Homo sapiens: one gene and its partners. The protein of the gene in region 1 purifies or fractionates together with the protein of each later gene. This does not show direct contact. Each region holds a gene or a part of one and is shown on either strand. Other genes may lie near its edges.

Region 1 (3,500 bases):
TTGGTGAGGAGAGAGAATAGAAAGGATGAAAGCAAGTATTGGGTCCCTTATGTAGGGGTAATTTCCTTTTATTCTTATCTCATTATATAGTGTTTTCCTTCATGAGTCAATGAAATTACTAAATCAATTAACCAAATAAAATAGCGGTTGTTTTCCTTTGGTAACTTGGCCACATGTATTTGACACACCTAAGTCTTTCAGATAAGGTAGTTCTCATTCAGGGAAACACTGTTAGTCATTTTAGTAATTAATTGTCTAAGAAAGTGTTAAGCCCTACTCTGAGCCTGATCTGAATTCCTCATTGCTGGGTAGGGCTCCTTTTGGGAAATGACCATTAGATCAGTGTTGATAAGCAAATACAGAAACTGGAATGTTTCTGTATGTTCTATGTAGAAATACTGTATGAGACTGAGAACCTATACGTTCAACACATGAATGGATGAACACAAAGGCAGGAGATTGTTGTTATTATTATCATTATAGAGTATTGAACAATCATAGTGATGCTCTTTCAAAGGCATGAATACAACCCAGAGTACTCTAGCAATGTCTTAGTCCATTTTTGTTACTGTAACAAAATACCACAAACTAATTAATTTATAAATAATCAAATTTATTTCTCACAGTTCTGGAGGCTGGGAAGTCCTAGGTCAAGGTGCTAATTAGATTTGATGTCTGTTACACACTTGATCTCTGCTTGCAAGATGGTGCCTTCTTGCCATGTCTTCTTCACATGGAGGAAGAGACTAATGCTGTGTTCTCAGATGGTGGAAGGGAAAGAGCCAAAGGGACTAGGCTGCTCCCTTTGACCTCTTTTATAAGAGCACTAGTCCCATTCATGAGGGTTGAGTGCTGGTGACTTAATCACTTCCCCAAAGTACCTCCCTCTTAATACCATCACCTTGGCAGTTACATTCCAAAATCTGAATTTTGGAGGGACACAAACATTCAAGCCATAGCAAGCAATATATGTAAATTCTCCATAAGATTACTCCTTTAAATGTCAGCCTATCCAAATCACAGGCAGCAAATAGCAAGAATAAAAAGTCTTTATCCATATCTTTTAGCAGTAACTGAAATGATAGCAGTAAGTCTATTTTACTTGACCGAGAGCCTACGGACATTTGTAAGTTGATAGTTCCTTTATTTCTTCTGGAATATTACAGAAAGTACTTGTAAACATTTACATTAGTAAGATAATATGAAAAAGAGAACATTTAACAAATATCTCTCTATGTGAAAACATATTTACAGAAATGGTTTCCAAAGTATGCTCCACTTGCCAGAAGGAACAGGGGTGAGTAGACAGGGCTCCTGCAGCGCCACCTTAGTCGTTCCATTTGTAGGATTTAAGGATTAGGTTTCATTTGATGAAAGATATTTGACATAAAGATATGAAGACCAGGGCTGGGTGCGGTGGCTCACGCCTGTAATCCCAGCACTTTGGGAGGCCAAGGCGGGCAGATCATGAGGTCAGGAGTTTGAGACCAGCCTGGCCAACATGGTGAAACCCCATCTCTACTAAAAATAGAAAAAGTAGCTGGGCATGGTGGCCGGCACCTTTAATCCCAGCTACTCGGGAGGCTGAGGCAGGAGAATAGCTTGAAACCGGAAGGCAGAGGTTGCAGTGAGCTGAGATCTCGCCACTGCACTCCAGCCTGGGCAAAAGAGCGAAACTCCACCTCAAAAAAAAAAAAAAAAAAAACATGAAAGCCAAACTTGAAAATTTTGAAAACCACTGCTATTGGTGATTCTGGGCAGTTACTCATCTTCTTTGAAAAATCACAACTACAAAAAATGATTTTAAATTGTGGCAGGTGTTATTAAGTTACCTCAAATCAAATCACCAGACTGTATCTATGAGAAATATTACCAAGAAATGTGGTACCATTTTCTTTTCTCTAAAGCTTTAGGAATTGAGTAGATTATTTTTAAATGTATTTAAAATTAGGGCCAGGCAGGGTGGCTCACATCTCTAATCCCAGCACTTTAGGAGGCCAAGGCCAGTGGATCACTTGAGGTCAGGAGTTTGAGACCATTCTGGCCAACATAGTGAAACCCATCCCTATTAAAAATACAAAAATTAGCCGGGTGTGGTAGCTCACACCTGTAATCCCAGCACTTTGGGAGGCTGAGGCAGGTGGATCATGAGGTCAAGAGATCGAGACCATCCTGGCCAACATGGTGAAACCCCGTCTCTACTAAAAATACAAAAATTAGCAAGGGATGGTGGCATGTGCCTGTAGTCCCTCAGGAGGCTGAGGCAGGAGAATCACTTGAACCTGGGAGGTGGAGGTTGCAGTGAGCTGAGATCGTGCCATTGCAATCCCTCTTCAGCCTGGTGACAGAGTGAGACTCCTTCTAAAAAAAAAAAAAAAAAAAATACAAAAATTAGCCAGGCGTGGTGGTGCATGCCTCTAGTCCTAGCTACTTGGGAGGCCAAGGTAGGAGAATCACTTGAACCGAGGAGGCGGAGGTTGCAGTGAGCCAAGATCATGCCACTGCACTCCAGCCTGGGTGACAGAGCGAGAATCCATCTCAAAAAAACAACAACAACAACAACAAAATATATATATATATCAAATTACATAAGAAAATCCTACATAAGAAAATCTTTCTTAGAAAATAAGAAAGAAAGTCCAGCCACTCCTCTTCCATTTCCCTTCCCAAAGGCAACTGCTGTTAAAGGATTTTTTTTTTCTGTTTCCTTCTTAACAGGTACATATATCAAACTGCTTATATTCTTGATCTCTTAAGGACAATTCTTTCAAGTGGGGAGAAAAGGTTAAGAAAACTTTTTTCTTTTTTCTTTTTTTATACAGTCTTGCTCTGTCGCCCCCACTATAAATGACTCTTAGATTGCTGTCTTTTTCATCTCTTTCACTGTCATCAGTCACTAATGCTGCTCTCAATTTGCCTCTATCACAGCAATCTCTTCCTGAATTTTAATATTTAACACCTAATCTTCTGAGGGTTTGAAAAACAAAGGAGCAAAGTCATTAGAATTGTTTTCGAAATAAGGGCCGGGCATGGTGGCTCATGCCTGTAATCCCAGCATTTTGGGAGGCCTAGGCGGGTGGATCACTGAGGTCAGGAGTTGGAGACCAGCCTCGCTGACATGGCGAAAACCCATCTCTACTAAAAATACAAAAAATTAGCCAGGCGAGGTGGCGGGCACCTGTAATCCCAGCTACTCAGAAGGCCGAGGCAGGAGAGTCTCTTGAACCCAGGCGGCGGAGGTTGCAGTGAGCTAGGATCATGCCACTGCACTATAGCCTGGGCAACAGAGGGAGACTTCGTCTCAAAAATCAAACAAACAAACAAAACAAAATAAGGGTTAATGGGCTCTGCATGAGTCCTTAAGAGCCTCTCTATGAGTAAGGAGAATAAACTTTCTAATAAGCATTTCATGACATTTTTTATGGCCCTTCAAAGGTCATTTTTGTAATTTCAAGACCCAATGACTATAAATAATAAATACCATGAACATGGTCACTTTA
Region 2 (3,500 bases), on another chromosome or scaffold:
GAGGAAATGTGTTCTTCAGTGCACAGAATGCAGCAAAACAGCCATCTGATAAATGCTCTGCAAGCCCTCCCTTAAGACGGCAGTGTATTAGAGAAAATGGAAACGTAGCAAAAACGCCCAGGAACACCTACAAAATGACTTCTCTGGAGACAAAAACTTCAGATACTGAGACAGAGCCTTCAAAAACAGTATCCACTGCAAACAGGTCAGGAAGGTCTACAGAGTTCAGGAATATACAGAAGCTACCTGTGGAAAGTAAGAGTGAAGAAACAAATACAGAAATTGTTGAGTGCATCCTAAAAAGAGGTCAGAAGGCAACACTACTACAACAAAGGAGAGAAGGAGAGATGAAGGAAATAGAAAGACCTTTTGAGACATATAAGGAAAATATTGAATTAAAAGAAAACGATGAAAAGATGAAAGCAATGAAGAGATCAAGAACTTGGGGGCAGAAATGTGCACCAATGTCTGACCTGACAGACCTCAAGAGCTTGCCTGATACAGAACTCATGAAAGACACGGCACGTGGCCAGAATCTCCTCCAAACCCAAGATCATGCCAAGGCACCAAAGAGTGAGAAAGGCAAAATCACTAAAATGCCCTGCCAGTCATTACAACCAGAACCAATAAACACCCCAACACACACAAAACAACAGTTGAAGGCATCCCTGGGGAAAGTAGGTGTGAAAGAAGAGCTCCTAGCAGTCGGCAAGTTCACACGGACGTCAGGGGAGACCACGCACACGCACAGAGAGCCAGCAGGAGATGGCAAGAGCATCAGAACGTTTAAGGAGTCTCCAAAGCAGATCCTGGACCCAGCAGCCCGTGTAACTGGAATGAAGAAGTGGCCAAGAACGCCTAAGGAAGAGGCCCAGTCACTAGAAGACCTGGCTGGCTTCAAAGAGCTCTTCCAGACACCAGGTCCCTCTGAGGAATCAATGACTGATGAGAAAACTACCAAAATAGCCTGCAAATCTCCACCACCAGAATCAGTGGACACTCCAACAAGCACAAAGCAATGGCCTAAGAGAAGTCTCAGGAAAGCAGATGTAGAGGAAGAATTCTTAGCACTCAGGAAACTAACACCATCAGCAGGGAAAGCCATGCTTACGCCCAAACCAGCAGGAGGTGATGAGAAAGACATTAAAGCATTTATGGGAACTCCAGTGCAGAAACTGGACCTGGCAGGAACTTTACCTGGCAGCAAAAGACAGCTACAGACTCCTAAGGAAAAGGCCCAGGCTCTAGAAGACCTGGCTGGCTTTAAAGAGCTCTTCCAGACTCCTGGTCACACCGAGGAATTAGTGGCTGCTGGTAAAACCACTAAAATACCCTGCGACTCTCCACAGTCAGACCCAGTGGACACCCCAACAAGCACAAAGCAACGACCCAAGAGAAGTATCAGGAAAGCAGATGTAGAGGGAGAACTCTTAGCGTGCAGGAATCTAATGCCATCAGCAGGCAAAGCCATGCACACGCCTAAACCATCAGTAGGTGAAGAGAAAGACATCATCATATTTGTGGGAACTCCAGTGCAGAAACTGGACCTGACAGAGAACTTAACCGGCAGCAAGAGACGGCCACAAACTCCTAAGGAAGAGGCCCAGGCTCTGGAAGACCTGACTGGCTTTAAAGAGCTCTTCCAGACCCCTGGTCATACTGAAGAAGCAGTGGCTGCTGGCAAAACTACTAAAATGCCCTGCGAATCTTCTCCACCAGAATCAGCAGACACCCCAACAAGCACAAGAAGGCAGCCCAAGACACCTTTGGAGAAAAGGGACGTACAGAAGGAGCTCTCAGCCCTGAAGAAGCTCACACAGACATCAGGGGAAACCACACACACAGATAAAGTACCAGGAGGTGAGGATAAAAGCATCAACGCGTTTAGGGAAACTGCAAAACAGAAACTGGACCCAGCAGCAAGTGTAACTGGTAGCAAGAGGCACCCAAAAACTAAGGAAAAGGCCCAACCCCTAGAAGACCTGGCTGGCTTGAAAGAGCTCTTCCAGACACCAGTATGCACTGACAAGCCCACGACTCACGAGAAAACTACCAAAATAGCCTGCAGATCACAACCAGACCCAGTGGACACACCAACAAGCTCCAAGCCACAGTCCAAGAGAAGTCTCAGGAAAGTGGACGTAGAAGAAGAATTCTTCGCACTCAGGAAACGAACACCATCAGCAGGCAAAGCCATGCACACACCCAAACCAGCAGTAAGTGGTGAGAAAAACATCTACGCATTTATGGGAACTCCAGTGCAGAAACTGGACCTGACAGAGAACTTAACTGGCAGCAAGAGACGGCTACAAACTCCTAAGGAAAAGGCCCAGGCTCTAGAAGACCTGGCTGGCTTTAAAGAGCTCTTCCAGACACGAGGTCACACTGAGGAATCAATGACTAACGATAAAACTGCCAAAGTAGCCTGCAAATCTTCACAACCAGACCCAGACAAAAACCCAGCAAGCTCCAAGCGACGGCTCAAGACATCCCTGGGGAAAGTGGGCGTGAAAGAAGAGCTCCTAGCAGTTGGCAAGCTCACACAGACATCAGGAGAGACTACACACACACACACAGAGCCAACAGGAGATGGTAAGAGCATGAAAGCATTTATGGAGTCTCCAAAGCAGATCTTAGACTCAGCAGCAAGTCTAACTGGCAGCAAGAGGCAGCTGAGAACTCCTAAGGGAAAGTCTGAAGTCCCTGAAGACCTGGCCGGCTTCATCGAGCTCTTCCAGACACCAAGTCACACTAAGGAATCAATGACTAACGAAAAAACTACCAAAGTATCCTACAGAGCTTCACAGCCAGACCTAGTGGACACCCCAACAAGCTCCAAGCCACAGCCCAAGAGAAGTCTCAGGAAAGCAGACACTGAAGAAGAATTTTTAGCATTTAGGAAACAAACGCCATCAGCAGGCAAAGCCATGCACACACCCAAACCAGCAGTAGGTGAAGAGAAAGACATCAACACGTTTTTGGGAACTCCAGTGCAGAAACTGGACCAGCCAGGAAATTTACCTGGCAGCAATAGACGGCTACAAACTCGTAAGGAAAAGGCCCAGGCTCTAGAAGAACTGACTGGCTTCAGAGAGCTTTTCCAGACACCATGCACTGATAACCCCACGACTGATGAGAAAACTACCAAAAAAATACTCTGCAAATCTCCGCAATCAGACCCAGCGGACACCCCAACAAACACAAAGCAACGGCCCAAGAGAAGCCTCAAGAAAGCAGACGTAGAGGAAGAATTTTTAGCATTCAGGAAACTAACACCATCAGCAGGCAAAGCCATGCACACGCCTAAAGCAGCAGTAGGTGAAGAGAAAGACATCAACACATTTGTGGGGACTCCAGTGGAGAAACTGGACCTGCTAGGAAATTTACCTGGCAGCAAGAGACGGCCACAAACTCCTAAAGAAAAGGCCAAGGCTCTAGAAGATCTGGCTGGCTTCAAAGAGCTCTTCCAGACACCAGGTCACACTGAGGAATCAATGACC
Region 3 (3,500 bases), on another chromosome or scaffold:
CTTTTTGTATTTTTTGTAGAGATGGTATTTCACCATGTTGGCCAGGCTGGTCTTGAACTCCTGGCTTCAAGCAGTCTACCTGCCTCAGCCTCCCAAAGAGCTGGGATTATAGGCGTGAGCCACAGTGTGGTGCCTGGCCTGTGTTGTGGGAGGTTTTTAGGTTTTCTGATCTGTGGTAGCCAGAAATTGAACCACGTGAATGTCTGGTTGAATAGTGTTACTCTCTTCAGTAGCTTGCTTTTTTCCCCTTAACATATTTATGGATACTATCTCAAAAGTAGAACTGCTTCATTTTTAAAGTTAAATAGTATTTCATTGTATTTCCATGTTTTTGTAATGTACTATGATTTTTGCGGTCAGTCCCTACTGATAGACATTTAAATTGTTTCCAGACTTGGGCTGTTGTAAACATTGTTGCAGTCAGTATTCTTGTATACACTTGTTCATATGTGTGTGAGCTTATGTATGAGGATACATTCCTAGAAGTTATATCTTGGTTGAAGGAAATTTGCAAATTCAACTTTGATAGAACCCTCCAAAGAAATTAATTTACATTCCTGCCAACAATGTATGAAACAATTTGTTTCCCCATATTCTGGCAGTATATATGGTGGTATCAGTGTTTCTGATCTTTGCTGCTCTCATAAGTGAAAAGTTATATCCCATTTCATCTGTTATCTCCCTGTCCCACTGCTTTTTCGTCCCAGCCAGGACTATTTTGAAGCAAATATCAGATACCTTATAATTTAATTTAAAAATATTTGAGTATGCATCTCAGTAAAGAGATGTGAACTCTAAAACATAACTCAAATGTCCATCAGCAGATGAATGGGTAAGCAATATGTGGAATATACGTACAATGGAATATTTAACCTTAAAAAGTAATAAAATTCTGACACATTAGAATGTTACAATGTAGATAAACCTTGAAGACCTTATGCCAAATGAAATAGGCCCAGCACAAAAGAACAAATGCTTGTATGCTTCGGTCTATATGAAGTGCCCGGAATAGTCAAATTCATACAGACAGAAAGTAGAATAGTGATTATCAGAGGCCAAGGGAAGGGGAGATTGGGGAGTTATTTTTTTAACAGGTACAGAGTTTCAGTTTGGGAAGATGAAAAAGTCCTTGAGATCGATGGTTGTGATGGTTGCAAAACAATGTGAATGTACTTAATGCCACTAAAACTGTACACTTAAGATGTTTTAAATGGTAAATTTTATGTTATTTATATTTTACCACAATTAAAAAATAATGTCAGGTATGGTGGCTCGCACCTGTAGTCCCAGCTACTCCCGAGGCTGAGTTGGGAGTATTGCTTGAGGCTGGGAGTAAGAGGCTGCAGTGGATTATGATCACACCTGGGAATAGTCACTGCACTCCAGCCTCAGCAACATGAAGTGACCTCATCTCTTGAAAAGAAAGCAAAAAACAAACAACTCCCCCAAAACCACAATACCAATACTACACCTAAAATATTCATATTTTGTTTGTTTGTTTGTTTTGATATGGAGTCTCACTCTGTTGCCAGGCTGGAGTGCAGTTGCATGATCTCGGCTCACTGCAACCTCTGCCTCCTGAGTTCAAGCGGTTCTCCTGTCTCAGCCTCCCTAGTAGCAGGGACTACAGGTGCATGCCACCATGCCCAGCTAATTTTTGTATTTTTAGTAGAGGTGGGGTTTCACCATATTGGTCAGGCTGGTCTGGAACTCCTGACCTCAGGCAATCCACCTGCCTTGGCCTCCCAAAGTGCTGGGATTACAGGCGTGAGCCACCGTGCGTGGCCTAATTTTTAAATCATTATAAAACTCAGTTAAAACTATTTTCAATTATGAAACAATTTGAATTTACAGAAAAGTACAAAAGTAGTATAACAGATACCTTTGTACTTACCATTGAGATGAATAGATATTAACCTTTTGCCATGTTTGCTCTAGAGTTGCTTTTAGTCAAAAAACCAAAGAAAGGTCAACCCACCTTTCCCTTTCTCTTTTCCTCTCCAGACGTTAACCATTTTCCTGAAATTCCTGTGTGCACTGTCTCTCTCTCTCTCTCTCTCTCTCTCTCTCTCTCTCTCTCTCTCTCTCTCTATATATATATATATATATATATATTTTTTTTTTTTTTTTTTTTTTTTTTGAGATGGAAACTCGCTCTGTCCCCATCAGACTCAGGCTGGAGTGCAATGGTGCGATCTCGGCTCACTGCAACCTCCGCCTCCTGAGTTCAAGCAATTCTCCTGCCTCAGCCGCCTGAGTAGCTGGGATTACAGGCGGCCGCCACCATGCCTAGCTAATTTTCATATTTTTAGTAGAGATGGGGGTTTCACCATATTGGCCAGGCTGGTCTCGAACTCCTGACCTCCGGTGATCTTCCCGCCTCAGCCTCCCAGAGTGCTGGAATTACAGGCATGGGCTACCACGCCTGGCCCCACCAGGAATTTGAGGTCTTGTTTTTCTGCTTATTGAAACTTGGTGTTAATGAGAACACATGGACACCACGAAGGGAACAACACACACAGGGGCCTGTTGGGTCGGGGGCAGGGAGAGGGAGAGCATCAGAAAAAATAGCTAATGCATGCTGGGCTTCATACCTAGTTGATGAGTTGATAGGTGCAGCAAACCACCACAGCAACCATTTACCTATGTAACCTGTACATCCTGCACATGTAATTCAGAACTTAAAAAAAAAAAAACCAAAAGACACTTGGTGTTATATATATAAATTTATAATATTTTACCAATCTGTTGGATACAAACATCTTTTTAAAATTTATATTTTCTTGACTAGTAAAGTTGAACATCTTTTCATATGTTTTGGGGCCATTTGGGCTTCTTTCTTGGTGAACTGCTGGTTCATATTATTTGCCTGTTTTGTTTTTCTGTTTTACTGAGTTTTAAGAATGCTGTACATACTCTAGATGCTGATCCTTTGTTGTATAAATACTTAATTTCATCTTCTAGTTTGTGTCTTGTCTTTTTACCTTGAAATATATAATTTTGTTGTAAACGATTTTAAATTAAAAATGTAGTTTTTCTTCTACAGTTTGTATTATTTGTATCTTGTTAAAGAAATCTTCTTCACCTTGGTTTAAAAAAATGCTTATATGTTTTCTACTGAAAGATTTAAGGTTTTTCATTGTACACTTAGGTCTTTTGTCCATCTGGAATTTATTTTTACATGTAGTATGAGATTGAGGTCTGTATTAGTCTGTTTTCGCACTGCTATAAAGAACTGCCTGAACGGGCCCGGAGGCTCACGCCTGTAATCCCAGCACTTTGGGAAGCCGAGGCAGGTGAATCACCTGAGGTCGGGAGTTCGAGACCAGCCTGACCAACATGGAGAAACCCCATCTCTACTAAAAATACAAAATTAGCCGGGTGTGGTGGCGTGTGGCTGTAATCCCAGCTTCTCGGGAGGCTGAGGCAAGAGAATTGCTTGAACCTGGGAGGCAGAGGTTGCGGTGAGCCGCGATCACGCCATTGCACTCCAGCCTGGG
Region 4 (3,500 bases), on another chromosome or scaffold:
AAAAGATAATTTAATATATTTAAACTCAGAGGGAAAAAATGGATTTTTAAAGAAATGGTACTGGACATAACTGAATATCCAGCTGGAAGAAAGGAAAACGTGCATCATATGCAAACATTTTTCCAAAGGATGAAACAACTGAAATTTTTAAATGATCACAGTGAACATTCCTCAAGAAAATAGGAGACTTTGTATAGTCTAAGGGAGACCACCTTAACCAAGAAGGACAATGCGGAGACAGTGAAAGAGCAGACACTTCTATATGGCCAAGAGAGCATGAACGAAGTCAGTAGAACTCAAGAGATATTGAAAAATGTTCAAAGGTTAGGAGGATGACATTCACAGAAGAACAAATCCTAACATCTAACAATCACGGAAAACTTTTAATACACTATTCAAAAAGTGTTAAATAGGCCGGGTGCAGTGGCTCACGCCTGTAATCCCAGCACTTTGGGAGGCCAAGTCCTTGGATCATCTGAGGTCAGGAGTTCGACACCAGCCTGGCCAACATGATGAAACCCTGTCTCTACAAAAAATACAAAAATTAGCCAGACATGGTGGCAGGTGCCTGTAATCCCAGCTACTGGGGAGGCTGAGGCAGGATAATTGCTTGAACCTGGGAGGCGTGGGAGGCAGAGGTTGCAGTGAGCCGAGATCGCGCCATTGCATTCCAGCCTGGGTGACAAGAGTGAAACTCCGTCTCAAAAAAAAAAAAGTGTTAAACAGCAATGAGATACTGCCATTTTACATATCAGGTTCCCAAAAAAGATGAAAATGCATAGCTAGTAAAGACATATATTATAGTGTTTTTAGAAATAAATACGAATAGGTTACCCAACACACATATTTTGACCTTAAAAAAGGATTGTTTGTTTTAGAAACAGAGTCTCACTCTTGTCACCCAGGGTGGAATGCTGTGACGCAATCATAGCTCACTGCAGACTCAAACCCCTGGGCTCAAGTGACCCTCCTGCCTCAGCCTCCCGAGTAGTTAGGACTACAGGCACTTGCCACCACACCTGGCTAATTTTTTCTATTTTTTGTATAGATGGAGTCTTGCTTTGTTGCCCAGGCAGTTACTAAACTCCTGGCCTCAAGAGATCTTCCCAGCCAGGCATGGTGGCTCACGCCTGTAATCACAGCATTTTGAGAGGCCGAGGCGGGTTGATCACTTGAGGTCAGGAGTTCAAGACCAGCCTGTCCAACATGGTAAAACCCTGCCTCTACTAAAAATACAAAAATTAGCTGGGCATGGTGGCACACGCCTGTAATCCCGGCTACTCGGGAGGCTGAGACAGGAGAATTGCTTGAACCTGGGAGGCTGAGGTTGCAGTAAGCTGAGATTGCACCACTGCACTCCAGCCTGGGCGACAGACTCGGTCCAAAAAAAAAAAAAAAAAAAAAAAGATCCTCTTGCTGTGGCCTCCCAATGTGCTGGGATTACAGGTGTGAGCCACCACGCCCAGCCCTGTTTGTTTTTTTGAGACAGGGTTTCATCCTGTTGCCCAGGCTGGAGTACAGTGGTGCAATCATGGCTCACTGTAACCTTGAATCCTGTGTTCAGGGGATCCTCTGGCCTCAGCCTCCTGAGTAGCTAGGAATACAGGCATGTACCATCATGCCTGGCTAATTTTTATTTGGTAGAGACAGTGTCTCACTATGTTTCCCAGGCTGGTCTTGAACTCTTGACTTCAAGTGATCCTCCCACCTTGGCCTTCCAAAGTACTAGGACTATAAGTGTGAGCCAACAAACAAATAAGGTTGTTTTTAAATGATAGAATACCCCGCATTTAAAAATATTTTGGGATACCAGTTTTCATGGAAGACCCTGTTTGTTTTCATTCCTGGCAAATGCTTATGGTTTGGATATGGAAAGCATGGGAAGGAAAAAGTGTAGTTTCCATAAATGCCAAAGTATCAGCTTGAAATCAGTTTGTGTTTATGATGTGCTATGTGGTCTTAAAAACGAGTATGTCCTACAATAAAGATTAGAAACAGCATATTAAAAGGGCATACACTGGGCCAGGCACAGTGGCTCACACCTGTAATCCCATGACTTTGGGAGGCTGAGGTGGGCAGATCACCTGAGGTCAGGAGTTCGAGACCAGCCTGGCCAACATGGAGAAACGCCGTCTCTACTGAAAATACAAAAAATTAGCCGGGCATGGTGGCAGGCACCTGTAATCCCAGCTACTCAAGAGGCTGAAACAAGAGAATCGCTTGAACCTGGGAAGTGGAGGTTGCAGTGAGCTGACATTATGCCGCTGCACTCCAGCCTGGGTGGCAAAGTGAGACTCTGTCTCAGATAGATAGATAGCTAGATTAGATAGATAGATAGATAGATAGATAGATAGATAGATAGATAGATAGACTGTCTCAGATAGATAGATCGATCGATCGATAGACTGTCTCAGATAGATAGATAGATATAAATAGATAGATAGATAAATTCATACATTGTACCTGAGAAAAGTGTCACAGAATGACCAATACTGAGACATACTTTAGTAAAATTGCTGGATTTTAAAGACAGGAAAGTCCTTTGAGCATCCAAGCAAAAAAGGTAAAGTCATTTATAAGGAAAAGAAAATAAGAATATCATCAGACTTTTCAACAGAATTTTTTGTGCCAAAGGAAAAAATAGCTTAAGATACTCAATGATCTAAGGAAATGTCAACCAAGGATTTTTATATCCAGCCAAACTGACTTCCAGATACAAAGACTGCACAGAAACTTAACAACTTAACAAGAATTCAGTGACTTTTCAGTCCTTCCTGAGAGATCTCCTGGAAAATGAATTTCAAATGACCAAAAACCACTCCCCGCCCCAAAAAAAACAAAACAGAGAAACACTGATATAAGGACTGGCAGTGAGCACTAAACATGTATTTATTTTTAGATTTAAATTCAAATGAGGGCTCTAGGGGAGAAAATATTTCATGTGTAACGTCTGTAAGACATGTCAGTATAAATACAATGCATCTGTTTTAAAAAATGAATGGACAGTGGGGGAGAACATATGCAAAATATTTAGCTGTTTTCAGTAATCATAAAAGTGATGAGTAATCCCAGCACTTTGGGAGGCTGAGGTAGGCGGATCACAAGGTCAGGAGACTGAGACCATCCTGGCCAACATGGTGAAACCTCGTCTCTACTAAAAATACATAAAAAAAAAAAAATTAGCTTGGTGTGGTGATGCAGCCTGTAATCCCAGCTATTTGGGAGGCTGAGGCAGGAGACTAGGTTGAACCCGGGAGGCGGAGATTGCAGTGAGCTGAGATCGCACCACTGCACTCCAGCCTGGCGACAGAGCGAGACTCCGTCTCAAAAGAAAAAAAAAAGTGATGAAAACATTAGTCTTGTTATTCTGAGGGCTGGTGTGTGTGTATGAGAGAGAGATGTGGAATGAAGTAAATGAATAACGATGTGATATTCTAATTTTACCACCTGTGATATCCTGGAGAAGCAGAATTCTCCTGGAATAAAGAAGACATAGATAT

Evidence for each region. Proteins that work in one complex are often made in the same cells at the same time.
Region 2: the proteins of SLC9B2 (region 1) and MKI67 purify together in Homo sapiens (affinity purification with mass spectrometry; one large-scale study listed by BioGRID and IntAct). This does not show direct contact.
Region 3: the proteins of SLC9B2 (region 1) and UBR3 purify together in Homo sapiens (affinity purification with mass spectrometry; one large-scale study listed by BioGRID and IntAct). This does not show direct contact.
Region 4: the proteins of SLC9B2 (region 1) and FBXO21 purify together in Homo sapiens (affinity purification with mass spectrometry; one large-scale study listed by BioGRID and IntAct). This does not show direct contact.

The regions. Positions count from the first base shown.
Region 1 is NC_000004.12:103,070,262-103,073,761, reverse strand, and holds part of SLC9B2 (sodium/hydrogen exchanger 9B2), read left to right. Parts: intron 1-3,500. UniProt on the Homo sapiens protein: Electroneutral Na(+) Li(+)/H(+) antiporter that extrudes Na(+) or Li(+) in exchange for external protons across the membrane. Uses the proton gradient/membrane potential to extrude sodium.
Region 2 is NC_000010.11:128,105,924-128,109,423, reverse strand, and holds part of MKI67 (proliferation marker protein Ki-67), read left to right. Parts: coding exon 1-3,500. UniProt on the Homo sapiens protein: Protein that associates with the surface of mitotic chromosomes and acts both as a chromosome repellent during early mitosis and chromosome attractant during late mitosis.
Region 3 is NC_000002.12:169,833,954-169,837,453, forward strand, and holds part of UBR3 (E3 ubiquitin-protein ligase UBR3), read left to right. Parts: intron 1-3,500. UniProt on the Homo sapiens protein: E3 ubiquitin-protein ligase which is a component of the N-end rule pathway. Does not bind to proteins bearing specific N-terminal residues that are destabilizing according to the N-end rule, leading to their ubiquitination and subsequent degradation.
Region 4 is NC_000012.12:117,180,471-117,183,970, reverse strand, and holds part of FBXO21 (F-box only protein 21), read left to right. Parts: intron 1-3,500. UniProt on the Homo sapiens protein: Substrate-recognition component of the SCF (SKP1-CUL1-F-box protein)-type E3 ubiquitin ligase complex.